Linked DNA regions of Homo sapiens. The protein of the gene in region 2 purifies or fractionates together with the protein of the main gene of each other region. This does not show direct contact. Each region holds a gene or a part of one and is shown on either strand. Other genes may lie near its edges. The genes, in order: DPEP1 and ACADS.

What was found.
Region 1: the proteins of ACADS (region 2) and DPEP1 purify together in Homo sapiens (affinity purification with mass spectrometry; 2 studies listed by BioGRID and IntAct, with this or other methods). This does not show direct contact.

Annotation. Positions count from the first base shown.
Region 1 is NC_000016.10:89,623,541-89,630,728, forward strand, and holds part of DPEP1 (dipeptidase 1 isoform a precursor), read left to right. Parts: intron 1-5,414; exon of another isoform or gene 5,415-5,429; intron 5,430-6,729; exon of another isoform or gene 6,730-6,764; 5' UTR 6,765-6,870; coding exon 6,871-6,974; intron 6,975-7,188. UniProt on the Homo sapiens protein: Hydrolyzes a wide range of dipeptides including the conversion of leukotriene D4 to leukotriene E4. Hydrolyzes cystinyl-bis-glycine (cys-bis-gly) formed during glutathione degradation.
Region 2 is NC_000012.12:120,735,683-120,740,553, forward strand, and holds the end of ACADS (short-chain specific acyl-CoA dehydrogenase, mitochondrial isoform 1 precursor), read left to right. Parts: intron 1-1,303; coding exon 1,304-1,453; intron 1,454-1,673; coding exon 1,674-1,785; intron 1,786-2,154; coding exon 2,155-2,306; intron 2,307-2,366; coding exon of another isoform or gene 2,367-2,506; intron 2,507-2,597; coding exon 2,598-2,768; intron 2,769-2,850; coding exon 2,851-2,988; intron 2,989-3,137; coding exon 3,138-3,233; intron 3,234-3,457; coding exon 3,458-3,514; intron 3,515-3,613; coding exon 3,614-3,766; 3' UTR 3,767-4,326; downstream 4,327-4,871. UniProt on the Homo sapiens protein: Short-chain specific acyl-CoA dehydrogenase is one of the acyl-CoA dehydrogenases that catalyze the first step of mitochondrial fatty acid beta-oxidation, an aerobic process breaking down fatty acids into acetyl-CoA and allowing the production of energy from fats.

The DNA.
Region 1 (7,188 bases), on a different chromosome or scaffold from region 2:
CCTCAGAAGAGAACAGAGTGTAGCTGAGTCCAAGCAGATCTGCTTCCCTGACGGGAGCGGGGCGGAAAAGAACACAGCAAACCTTGGAAACCGCCCTCCGGAGACCAGACGCACAACCCCCAAGAAAACACGAAAGAACCGTGCTGGGAGACAAAACAGAGGAAATGGAGTGCACAGGATAAGCAGGAAGAAAGCCAGGACAGGAGGCAGAAAGGAAGCTCAGACAGTGCAACCCCTGCCTGAAACCCTGGCCAGACGGAGCTCAGAAAGGAGGGGAAGAAGAGGGATACGGGCGACTGGAAATTCCCTGGACCGGAGGCAGAGGAAACGCTCCAGGGAGTGAAAAAGCCTCACACTAAAGCACGTGGCTGAGAAGTCGTGGCGCTCCGAGGAAAGAGGCAGCTCCAGGCCTGGAGGGAACAGCGGTTGCCCACACACAGCCGGGCCCATCCACCACACATGCACAGACGGACTGTGGTGCGGTCACCTCCTGAGGGACAAAGGTTTCCCGCCCAAAGTGCACATCCAGAGAAACTACTGATGAGGGCAGAATAAAGACAGACAGGAGGACTGGGGAGTGAATTCCTGCCGACCCGCTGCTAGGGAATGGTTGCAGGGCCAACTCTAATGGAATAGGGTTTAGTCTGCTTTGCATTGCTCCAAAGAAATCCCCGAGGCTGGGTCATCTATAGAGAAAAGGGGTGGGTTTGGCTCATGGTTGTGGAGGCTGAATGGGAAGCGTGGCACCAGCGTCTGCCTTTGGTGAGGACCCCAGGGAACCTCTCATCACGGCAGAAGGGGAGGGAGCAGGTGTCACTGGAAGGATGGCCTGGACCGTAATAGTCCATGTCCTCGGCGTTTGAACAAAGAAGTGGACAAAACGTGCAAAGTAACGAACAAAACACGGAAAGAAAGCAGCGAAAGCAGGGATTTATTAAAGCGAGAAAGGTCGGGAGTGGGGTGAGAGGGGCGCTGTTACATAGTTTTCTGGGGTTTGTTTTTTTTTTGTTTTGAGAGGGAGTCTCACACCGTCGCCCGGGCTGGAGTGCAGTGGCGCCATCTCGGCTCACTGCAACCTCTGCCTCCCAGGTTCAAGCGATTCTCCAGCCTCAGCCTCCGGAGTAGCTGGGATGACAGGCGCCCGCAACCACGCCCGGCTAATTTTTGTGTTTTTAGTTGAGACGGGGTTTTTCTTTGTTGGCCAGGCTGGTCTTGAACTCCCGGCCTCAGGTGATACACCCGCCGCACTCTCCCAAAGTGCTGGGATGACAGGTGTGAGCCACCCCCTCGGCCAGTTTTCTGGGTCTTAAGGGCACCTTTCATGGTTCCTATACCTCTTATCTGGATGAAAGATTTGGTCCGTGGCTAATCAAAGGCTGAGGTAAACTGGTGTCTGCAGATGAAAGGGTGGCCCGCAGCCAGTCCACAGCACTTTCCTTTCCATCTGGGACATGGTGGTGGGGGCTGTACGAGAGCAGCCTTTGATCCTTTGCTACTGGGCGTGGGGCTCTTCCTCAGGGTGTAGTTTTTGGAAGTTGGTGTTAATTGGCCCTGGGTTCCCTGCCCCAGACCTTGAAGTTTTTCCTGGATTCAGCGTGCTTTGGCCTCGGACTCTCTCCCCCTGACCTTGGTGTTTTCTCTTTTAGGAAGTCAGCACAAATTAGCGTCCCATTCCCTGCCCCAGGCCTCGCTGTTTTTCCTTGATTCAGCACGAATTGGCCTAAGTTCCCTGCCCCCAGACCCTATTCTCCTGCTCCCAGGGCATCACGTGCAGAGAGGGAGGCAGAGAGTGAGGGGGGAGGTACCAGGCTCGTTTTAACCGTCAGTTCTCTTCCCAACGAACTCATTACCTCCAGAACTGCACCAAGCCATTGATGAGGGGCCCGTCCCCATGACACAAAACCTCCCAACTGGGATCCAGTTTCCACGTGAGATCTGGACAAACATTCAAACTCTATCAGGACTATAAACCAAACAAAGGTGGAAGACCTTCAGTGCAGGCATTAAGTGAGCACTGACATTCCAGGCTGGGAGTAGCAGGTTGGACGAGGGGAGGCTCTGGGGGCAGGGAGGGAGGTTGCAGAGTCCAGAGCTTGGAAGATGGAAGATAAGGGCACCCAGTGTAGGGCAGGAGAAGAAAGGCAACTGGAAACTCTGGGACAAACTATAAAACCCCACGGAAAAGACAGGTGTAAGGTGACTACCTTGATCCGAGGGTGATCTGAGTGGCTGGTACCTTTGTGCTCACAGCAGGACTGTCGTAAAGTAGGTACATCCATGACTTCTACTTGACAGACGAAGAGACTGAGGCCGAGAAATTGAACCAGCTCACCCACGCTGCCCTTGAACAGTGGTCGTGAGAGGGGAACCCACAGCCTACCAGGACACGGGGCCCTGCCCAACCCCCAGGACGCCCTCGTGTTGAATTAAGTCCGTGGCTTTGAGCCTCAGAAACGGTGCAAAATGCAGTCCACGCGTGGCTTTCGGCCCCGGTCTGGTGCTCGGAAGACATGTGCCTCCCTCTACCTGCCCCCCGTCCTCCCGCCACTGTGAGGCCCTGAGAGGCCCTGAGATTCTTGCGATGTGTGAATAAGGGTGCCGCATTTTCATGTTGCACTGGGCACTGAATGGTGGAGCTGAGTGATGCGGTTTGGTTCTGTGTCCCCACCCAAATCTCATCTCAGATTATAATCCCCACCTGTCAAGGGAGAGACCCGCTGGAGGTGAGTGCATCGTGGGGCCATTCACCCCATGTTCTCGTGGTAGCGAGAAAGTTCTCACAAGATCTGTTTGTTGTTGTTTTTGTTGGTGGTGGTGGTTTTTAAGACGGAGTTTCACTCTTGTTGCCCAAGCTGGCTGGAGTGCAGTGGCACAATCTTGGCTCCCCGCAACCTCCACCTCCCGGGTTCAAGCAATTCTCCTGCCTCAGCCTCCCGAGTAGCTGGGATTACAGGTATGAGCCACCGCGCCTGGCTAATTTTGTATTATTAGTAGAGATGGGGTTTCTCCATGTTGGTCAGGCTGGTCTCGAACTCCGGACCTCAGGTGATCCACCCGCCTCGGCCTCCCAAAGTGCTTGGATCACGCGGTGGCGTGCGCCACCGCACCCAGCCTAAGATCTGGTTTTTAAAAGTGTTTGGCAGTCCCCCCCTCAAACTCTCTCCCCCGCTGCCATTTAAGACATGCCTTGCCTCCCTTTGCCTTCGGCCATGATTGTAATTTTCCTGAGGCCTCCCCAGCCATGTGGAACTGTGAGTCAATGAAGGCTTTTTTCCTTTAAAAATTACCCAGTCTTGGCCAGGCGCGGTGGCTCATGCCTGTAATCCCAACAGCTTGGGAGGCCGAGGCGGGTGGATCACTTGGGGTCAGGAGTTTGAGACCACCCTGGCCAACATGGTGAAACTGTCTGTAGTAAAAATAAAAAATTAGTCAGACGTGGGGCCAGGTATGGTGGCTCACACCTGTAATCCCAACACTTTGGGAGGCCGAGGCGGGCGGATCACGAGGTCAGGAGATCGAGACCATCCTGGCTAAAACGGTGAAAACTTGTCTCTACTAAAAAAAAAGAAAAAAAAGAAAAAAATTAGCCGGGCGTGGTGGCGGGCGCCTGTAGTCCCAGCTTCTCTGGAGACTGAGGCAGGAGAATGGCATGAACCCGGGAGGCAGAGCTTGCAGTGAGCTGAGGTTGCGCCACTGCACTCCAGCCTGGGCAATAGAGTGAGACTCCGTCTCAAAAAAAAAAAAAAAAAGTCAGATGTGGGATCAGGCATGGTGGCTCACACCTGTAATCCCAGCACTGTGGGAGGCCGAGGAGGGCACATTATTTTAGGTCAGGAGTTCAAGACCAGCCTGACCAACATGATGAAACCCTGTCTCTACTAAAAATACAAAAAAAATTAGCTGGGTGTGGTGTGCGCCTGTAATCCCAGCTACTCCGGAGGCCGAGGCATGAGAATCAGTTGAGGCAGAGGTTGCCGTGAGCCGAGATTGTGCCACCGCACTCCAGCCTGGGTGACCTACTGAGACTCTGTCTCAGAGAGAGAGAGAGGAAGGAGGGGAGGGGAGAAGAGGGAAAGGAAGGGCAGGGGAACCCAGTCTTGGATATTTCTTCTTTTTTTTTTTTTTTTTTTTTTTTTTTGAAACGGAGTCTTGCTCTGCCACCCAGGCTGGAGTACAGTGTTGCAATCTCGGCTCACTGCAACCTCCGCCTCCCTGGTTCAAGTGATTCTCCTCCAAAAGCCTCCAAGTAGCTGGGATTACGGGCAAGGGCCACCATGCCCAGTAAATTTTTGTATTTTTAGTAGAGAAGGGGTTTCACCATGTTGGTCAGGCTGGTCTCAAACTCCTAACCTCGTGATCCTCCTGCCTTGGCCTCCCAAAGGGTATTTTTGTTTGTTTTTGAGACGGAGTCTCGCTCTTTCGCCCAGGCGGGAGTGCAGTGGTGCAATCTCGGCTCACTGCAAGCTCTGCCTCCCGGGTTCATGCCATTCTCCTGCCTCAGCCTCCCAAGTAGCTGGGACTCCAGGCACCCGCCACCATGCCCGGCTAATTTTTTTTATTTTTGGTAGAGACGGGGTTTCACCATGTTAGCCAGGATGGTCTCGATCTCCTGACCTGGTGATCCACCCGCCTCGGCCTCCCACAGTGCTGGGATTACAGGCGTGAGCCACCACACCCGGCCACAAAAGGTATTTCTTTCTTTCTTTCTTTTCTTTCTTTTTTTTTTTTTTTTGTGAGATAGAGATTTACTCTTGTCGCCCAGGCTGGAGTGCAATGGCGCGATCACAGCTCATGGCATCCTCCACCTCCCGGATTCAAGCGATTCTCCTGCCTCAGCCTCCCGAGTAGCTGGGATTACAGGCATGCACCACCATGCCTGGCTAATTTTTGTATTTTTAGTAGAGACGGGGTTTCACCATGTTGCCCAGGCTGATCTCGAACTCCTGACCTCAGGTGATCCGCCCGCCTCAGCCTCCCACAGTGCTGGGATTACAGGTGTGAGCCACCTTGCCCAGCCCCCAAAGGGTATTTCTTTATAGCAGTGTGAAAATGGACAAATACAGTGGCCTCAAGTTCTCTCCTTAGTGGCACCTGAGGGAGTGTGGTGCTCTTGGAAATGCTCTCCTGTCACTCAGTTTCTGCCTCTGAAGCGACAAGCAGAACATGGATGTTCTCAGAGTCCAGGGCTGTGTAGATAGTATTGGAGCTGAAGGCAAAAGGAAAAATCAGAATATTGGGCCTGTCTTTATTTTAAAGGTTTGTGGGGGAGGGGGGGCGGTTTGTGTTTTGTTTGTTTGTTTTTCTGAGATGGAGTCTTGATCTGTTGCCCAGGCTGAAGTGCAGTGGCATGATCTTGGCTCACAGCAACCTCCGCCTCCCGGGTTCAAGTGATTCTCCTGCCTCAGCCTCCTGAGTAGCTGGGACTACAGGTGCGCACCACCATGCCCAGCTAATTTTTGTCTTTTTAATACAGAGAGGGTTTCACCATATTGGCCAGGCTTGTCTTGAACTCCTGACCTCAAGTGATCCATCCGCTTCGGCCTCCCAAAGTGCTGGGATTATAGGCGTGAATGACTGTGCCCAGCTATTTTAAAGTTTTATACTTTGTTCATTATGGATTTTTTTTACATGAATTCTGATTTTTTTAAAATATTGAATGAAAATACGATTTATCATGACCTGGGCATGGTGGCTCATGCCTGTAATCCCCGCAGTTTGAGAGGCCAAAGCAGGCAGGTTTGCTTGAGGCCAGGAGTTCGAGACCAGCCTGGGAAACATGGGGAAGACCCCATCTCTACAAAAAATACAAAAATTAGCCAGACGTGGTGGTGCACGCCTGTGGTCCCAGCTACTCAGGAGGCTCAGGCAGGAGGGTTGCTTGGGCCCAGGAGGTGCAGGTTGCAGTGAGCCGAGAGGGAGCCACTGTCCTCCAGCTGGGGCGATCCTCCTTCCCTGCCGGGCTCCCCCCACCCCCCCCCGAAGCCTCTGACCAGTTTTCCCTCCTGCTCCTCCCAGCAGGCCTGGTTTAGCCCCAGTGCTCAGCCCACTGTCCCCCAGAACCCCAGACACCACCCAGCCCTGGGATTAAGATTCTTCCGTCAGGGCACCACCTGGGAACTGTGTGCCCAGGAGCCCTCGGGCGACTTGAATGTGCTCTGCTGAGTCCTAGAGAGGCCCCGGTTCTAAGGACGTGTCTAGCTGCTTGGCCTGAAGCTCTGTAGCTGGAGTGTGGGTCCCTGTGACGCTGGAGGGCTGCAGGCCGGGGGTGCGGACCCCTCAGCAACAGGGCAGGCGCCAGGGGCACACCTGGCTGTGCAGCAGCTTCCTGGAACGCCCTAATGTTTATCCCCCATGGCAAGTCACGTAAGATGATTTTTACGTGGAAAGGGGTGCTTTATGAGAATGCACTATTTGAATGACTGTTGTCTTGCTTGCAGATCTAGGCCCCCGGGTCCTGAGGGAGGTGGTAGTAATAACAGTAGCACAGCTAGAGCCAACAGCCACTCACCACTCATCTGGGCCTGCTCTCAGCCTGCTGTCCTTTCATCTGGGCTCTAGCTCCACCCCTGGGTCTGGGATCCCAGCTTCTTACTATGCCTCCGCCTAGCCCAGACAGCAACGCCCAGTCATTGAGTGTCCGGCCTTCCATCCTACCCACCCTGGTGGGGAATGTGCTGGTTACTTATTGAACATGGGAAGCTATAAACAGGAGAGCAGCCACCTGTCATCACTTCCACCCACACCTCTGGTGCCTCTCCTGGCAGGCAGAGTGGCTCCTCACAGCCTGAAGCTCATCCTTCTGCACGGGCCAGCCAGGCCAGCACAGAGGCACCAGGGCAGCAGTGCACACAGGTCCCCGGGGACCCCACCATGTGGAGCGGATGGTGGCTGTGGCCCCTTGTGGCCGTCTGCACTGCAGACTTCTTTCGGGACGAGGCAGAGAGGATCATGAGGGACTCCCCTGTCATTGATGGGTGAGTGCTCACCTGAGCCAGGTGCTTAGGGAACCAGGACTGGGAACTGGGGCTGGGAGAGCGGGGCTGGGGGAGCCGGGGCTGGGGGAGCGGGGCTGGGGGAGCCAGGGCTGGGGGTGCCGGGGCTGGGGGTGCCGGGGCTGGGGGAGCCGGGGTTGGGGGTGCCGGGGCTGGGGGTGCCGGGGCTGGGGGAGCCGGGGCTGGGGGTGCCGGG
Region 2 (4,871 bases):
GAGGTCGGGAGTTCAAGACCAGCCTGGCCAAGATGGTGAAAACCCGTCTCTACTAAAAATACAAAAATTAGCTGGGCGTGATTATGGGCACCTGTAATCTCAGCTACTCGGTAGGCTGAGGCAGAGAATTGCTTGAACCTGGGAGGAAGAGGTTGCAGTGAGCCGAGATCTGCACTACTGCACTCCAGCCTGGGCAACAGAACAATACTCTGTCACAAAATAAAATAAAATAAAATAAAATAAAATAACATGTTTGCAGGAATGAGATTGTATAAAAGGGCTCGTGAAAAGCAACGGTTCCCTCCCGTCCCCATCCCTGTCCCCGTCCCTGTCCCTGTCCCCGTCCCTGTCCCTGTCCCTGCTCTCCCAGAGATAAGTGGTTTTACTTGTTCCTTTTTGAAGTTAGGTAGATTCTGTGGTCCACATTTCCCATATTACTCACCTGAAAGTAATAATACTATTATTATTATTTTGTTTTTGGTAGAGATGGGGTCTTGCTATGTTGCCCAGACTGGTCTCGAACTCCTGGCCTCAAGCAATCCCCTCACCTTGGTCTCCCAAAGTGCTGGGATTACAGGTGTGATCACTGCTCCTGGCCCACTCTTAATATGATTATTACCCAGAATTAAGAGTCCCAAGCTCTTATCCTTCATTCATTCTCTCACTGGCCTTGGGCATGTAGCAGTGAGCAAGAGCACACACAGTCTGTGCCCTCGTGGTGAAGGCAAAAGACCTTAATCCAGAGAAGCACGTTCATCCCTGAGAAATTCCAGCCGCAGAAGTGCTGCAGGAGAGGGACTGAAGGATTTGACTCAGCGAGGCTGGGGATGGCAGCCCAAAGCAGCGAGGCCTGAGCTGCGATCAGAAGGAGAGGAGGGGCAATAACCAGCTGAGGGATAGGAGGTGGCATGTGCAGAGGCCCTGTGGTGGGGAGGGTGCGTGTGTGTGGATGTGCAGAGGGGGCTGGACGAAGGTCAGTGTGGCTCACGCTGTCCTGCTCCTTACCTCTGAGTTCCCTGAAAGCATCCTGTGCCTTCTGCTTGCTCGCTGCCGTGGCTGTGGACGGAGCGGGGAGCAGGCGTGGAGGCGGGGGCAGGACAGCTTGAATGAGAAGTGCCATCATATAGACCTCAGTGGGACTGGGTCTTCAGCTTCTGGACTTGGGGATCCCTTGTGCGTGGCTGGGGTCACATGGCCTGAGTTTCTGCAGGGCACTGCCTCGGGGGCAGGAGGGTTTGGGCTTGGGGAGGGTGGGCTCGCCCCCGGCAGCTGCCCATGGCGTGCCGTCCTTCCCTGTGCCCAGGTGAAGAAGATGGGCGGGCTTGGGCTTCTGGCCATGGACGTGCCCGAGGAGCTTGGCGGTGCTGGCCTCGATTACCTGGCCTACGCCATCGCCATGGAGGAGATCAGCCGTGGCTGCGCCTCCACCGGAGTCATCATGAGTGTCAACAACGTGAGCCCCCTCCCAGGCCCCTGGGACACACGGGTGGAGGGAGGCTCCCGTGAGCGGGCAGGCTCTGGCCTCGGCTCCCAGCCCTGATCTCTCTGGAGACGTCACAGGCCTTGGTCCTACTGGGTAGGCCCTGGACAGAACAGGCCCTGAGGTGCAGCCCGCAGGTGGGCAGGATGCGCCTGGGCCTGGGGCCTCCGACCGCTCCCCGCTGTCCTCCTAGTCTCTCTACCTGGGGCCCATCTTGAAGTTTGGCTCCAAGGAGCAGAAGCAGGCGTGGGTCACGCCTTTCACCAGTGGTGACAAAATTGGCTGCTTTGCCCTCAGCGAACCAGGTACCTGCCCTGTCCCCTCACCTGTCCTTAGGGTGACAGGCCCAGAGGGGAGGAGAGGAAGGTGCTAGGCCAACTGCCCACTGCTTCGGAGGCCAGAGGGGAGGCTCCCCGTGTGGTTGGTAGGGTGAGCGCTCTTGCCACCGCGGCGCTGGGAGGAAGATTGCCTTCGGGGTCCCCTGGTTTAAGACGCCAGCTCCTGCACACCCCCCTCGCCCTCTGGTCCCATCACTGAGAGCTTTGGGACCCTCATCTTTGGAGCCCGAGTCATAGGGTTTCGTGTCTGCCAGCAGGGGTGTGGAGGGAGTGAGGCTGGTGCCCTTAGGTTGTGTGGGGTGGGGCGTGCGCTGAGCCCTGGGTCTGTGTGGGCAGGGAACGGCAGTGATGCAGGAGCTGCGTCCACCACCGCCCGGGCCGAGGGCGACTCATGGGTTCTGAATGGAACCAAAGCCTGGATCACCAATGCCTGGGAGGCTTCGGCTGCCGTGGTCTTTGCCAGCACGGACAGAGCCCTGCAAAACAAGGTGGGCCCACCCAGAGAGGGGTTCAGCCGGATCCTGGGCTGCTGTCATTTCTGTTTCTAGGGCCTTCTCTCCTTGGCCCGACTGGACCTATTTTTGCTCTGGGGCAAGTGGGCTGTCCCTGTCCCTCCTCAGCTGCCACTGAAGCCTGCACCTTCCCCAGAAGCCGGCAGAGGGTGTCAAGGCCTGAGCTTCTGAGGGAGGTGGGGAGGGGACCGGGTTGGTGTTGGGTGTGCTGGTGTGAGGGTGTGGCTGAGGGGCAGCTCTGAGAAAACCACCCGCCTCTCCTTTCAGGGCATCAGTGCCTTCCTGGTCCCCATGCCAACGCCTGGGCTCACGTTGGGGAAGAAAGAAGACAAGCTGGGCATCCGGGGCTCATCCACGGCCAACCTCATCTTTGAGGACTGTCGCATCCCCAAGGACAGCATCCTGGGGGAGCCAGGGATGGGCTTCAAGATAGCCATGGTGAGCCCGGCAGTGGGGGTGGCACCTTGAGGCCAGGCCCGCGCCCCGGCTGGCGGGCCACTGACCAGGGCGGTCCCCACAGCAAACCCTGGACATGGGCCGCATCGGCATCGCCTCCCAGGCCCTGGGCATTGCCCAGACCGCCCTCGATTGTGCTGTGAACTACGCTGAGAATCGCATGGCCTTCGGGGCGCCCCTCACCAAGCTCCAGGTCATCCAGGTAATGGTGGCAGCTTTAGGAGCTGGGCCTAGAGGCTGGACAGCGGGCGGAGAGTGTGGCCTCCTGACTGCTCTCCGTCCTCCTCCCCCTCCCTTCTGTCCCCTGGAGGGGCAGCTGCTGACCTGTGGTGTGGGGTGGGGCTATTGCAGTTCAAGTTGGCAGACATGGCCCTGGCCCTGGAGAGTGCCCGGCTGCTGACCTGGCGCGCTGCCATGCTGAAGGATAACAAGAAGCCTTTCATCAAGGTGCCCACAGGGGTCCCCGAGCCATGGCCCAGAATGTGGTGGGCCCAGGGACGGGGAGAGGTTGGGGCGGGTCTCTGCTCCTTGGCCCCGTGGGTCAGAGGTGTGGGCCTGGGGTTTACAGCCCCATGGGGAGGCTCCACAGGCCTCCCCTGCTGAGGGAGTGGGGGAGCAGGGGATGGAGGGGTCCCCTCAAGGGAAGGCTCTGACTGTACCCCCATGTTTAGGAGGCAGCCATGGCCAAGCTGGCCGCCTCGGAGGCCGCGACCGCCATCAGCCACCAGGTGAGTGTCCACAGTGAGCTCTGAGGGGGCCAGCTGCCCCTTCTCCAGCTTTCCCCACGCCGGGGTCTTCTCCCTCCTGAGCCACTGTTCTCATCTCAGGCCATCCAGATCCTGGGCGGCATGGGCTACGTGACAGAGATGCCGGCAGAGCGGCACTACCGCGACGCCCGCATCACTGAGATCTACGAGGGCACCAGCGAAATCCAGCGGCTGGTGATCGCCGGGCATCTGCTCAGGAGCTACCGGAGCTGAGCCCGCGGCGGACTGCCCCAGGACTGCGGGAAGGCGCGGGAGCCAGGGGCCTCCACCCCAACCCCGGCTCAGAGACTGGGCGGCCCGGCGGGGGCTCCCTGGGGACCCCAGATGGGCTCAGTGCTGCCACCCAGATCAGATCACATGGGAATGAGGCCCTCCGACCATTGGCAGCTCCGCCTCTGGGCCTTTCCGCCTCCTCACCACTGTGCCTCAAGTTCCTCATCTAAGTGGCCCTGGCCTCCTGGGGGCGGGGTTGTGGGGGGGCTGAGCGACACTCAGGGACACCTCAGTTGTCCTCCCGCGGGCCCTGGTGCCCTGGCATGAAGGCCCAGTGCGACAGGCCCTTGGTGGGGTCTGTCTTTTCCTTGAGGTCAGAGGTCAGGAGCAGGGCTGGGGTCAGGATGACGAGGCCTGGGGTCCTGGTGTTGGGCAGGTGGTGGGGCTGGGCCATGGAGCTGGCCCAGAGGCCCCTCAGCCCTTTGTAAAGTCTGATGAAGGCAGGGGTGGTGATTCATGCTGTGTGACTGACTGTGGGTAATAAACACACCTGTCCCCCAGTCTGTGTCCTCGCCCTCTCCTGGGTGCTCCGGGGAGGGATGGTGGTCTCTGCACAGAGTCCTGCTCTCTGACAGTCTCACCCTGTGAGTGTTGGGGGTCTTGGGGAGGGGCCTGGCCACCTGGGAGGTTCCTGAGTTCCGGCAGAGGCCAGATTGGCCAAGGAGGCAGTTCAGGAATAGGAACTGGGTCCTGCAGGCCTCAGGGAGTGGCCCCTGGGGAGGGAGGGTGGGCCAGGCAGGGCCAGTGGGCTAGAAGGGGTTCTCTACGCAGGACCAGCCTCCAGGCAGGAGGAAGGAAGGCCCCAGATTGCCAGAGTCGGGGAGCAAAGCTGTGGAGGCCTCGAGCCCCAGGTGGGAGAACACAGAACCTCGAGAAGCAGCCATTGTGCTCACTAGCGCGCTCGGGGGCGGCCCTGGCCAGCCAGTGCGGGGGCTTGCCCTGGTCCTGGTGCCTGCAGGGCTTTCTCTGGGCAAAGGTGCCCCTGAAGCCAAGGTCCAAGCTCTTAACCCTCTGGGCCAGTGTCGATCTCAGCAGCTGGAAGAGA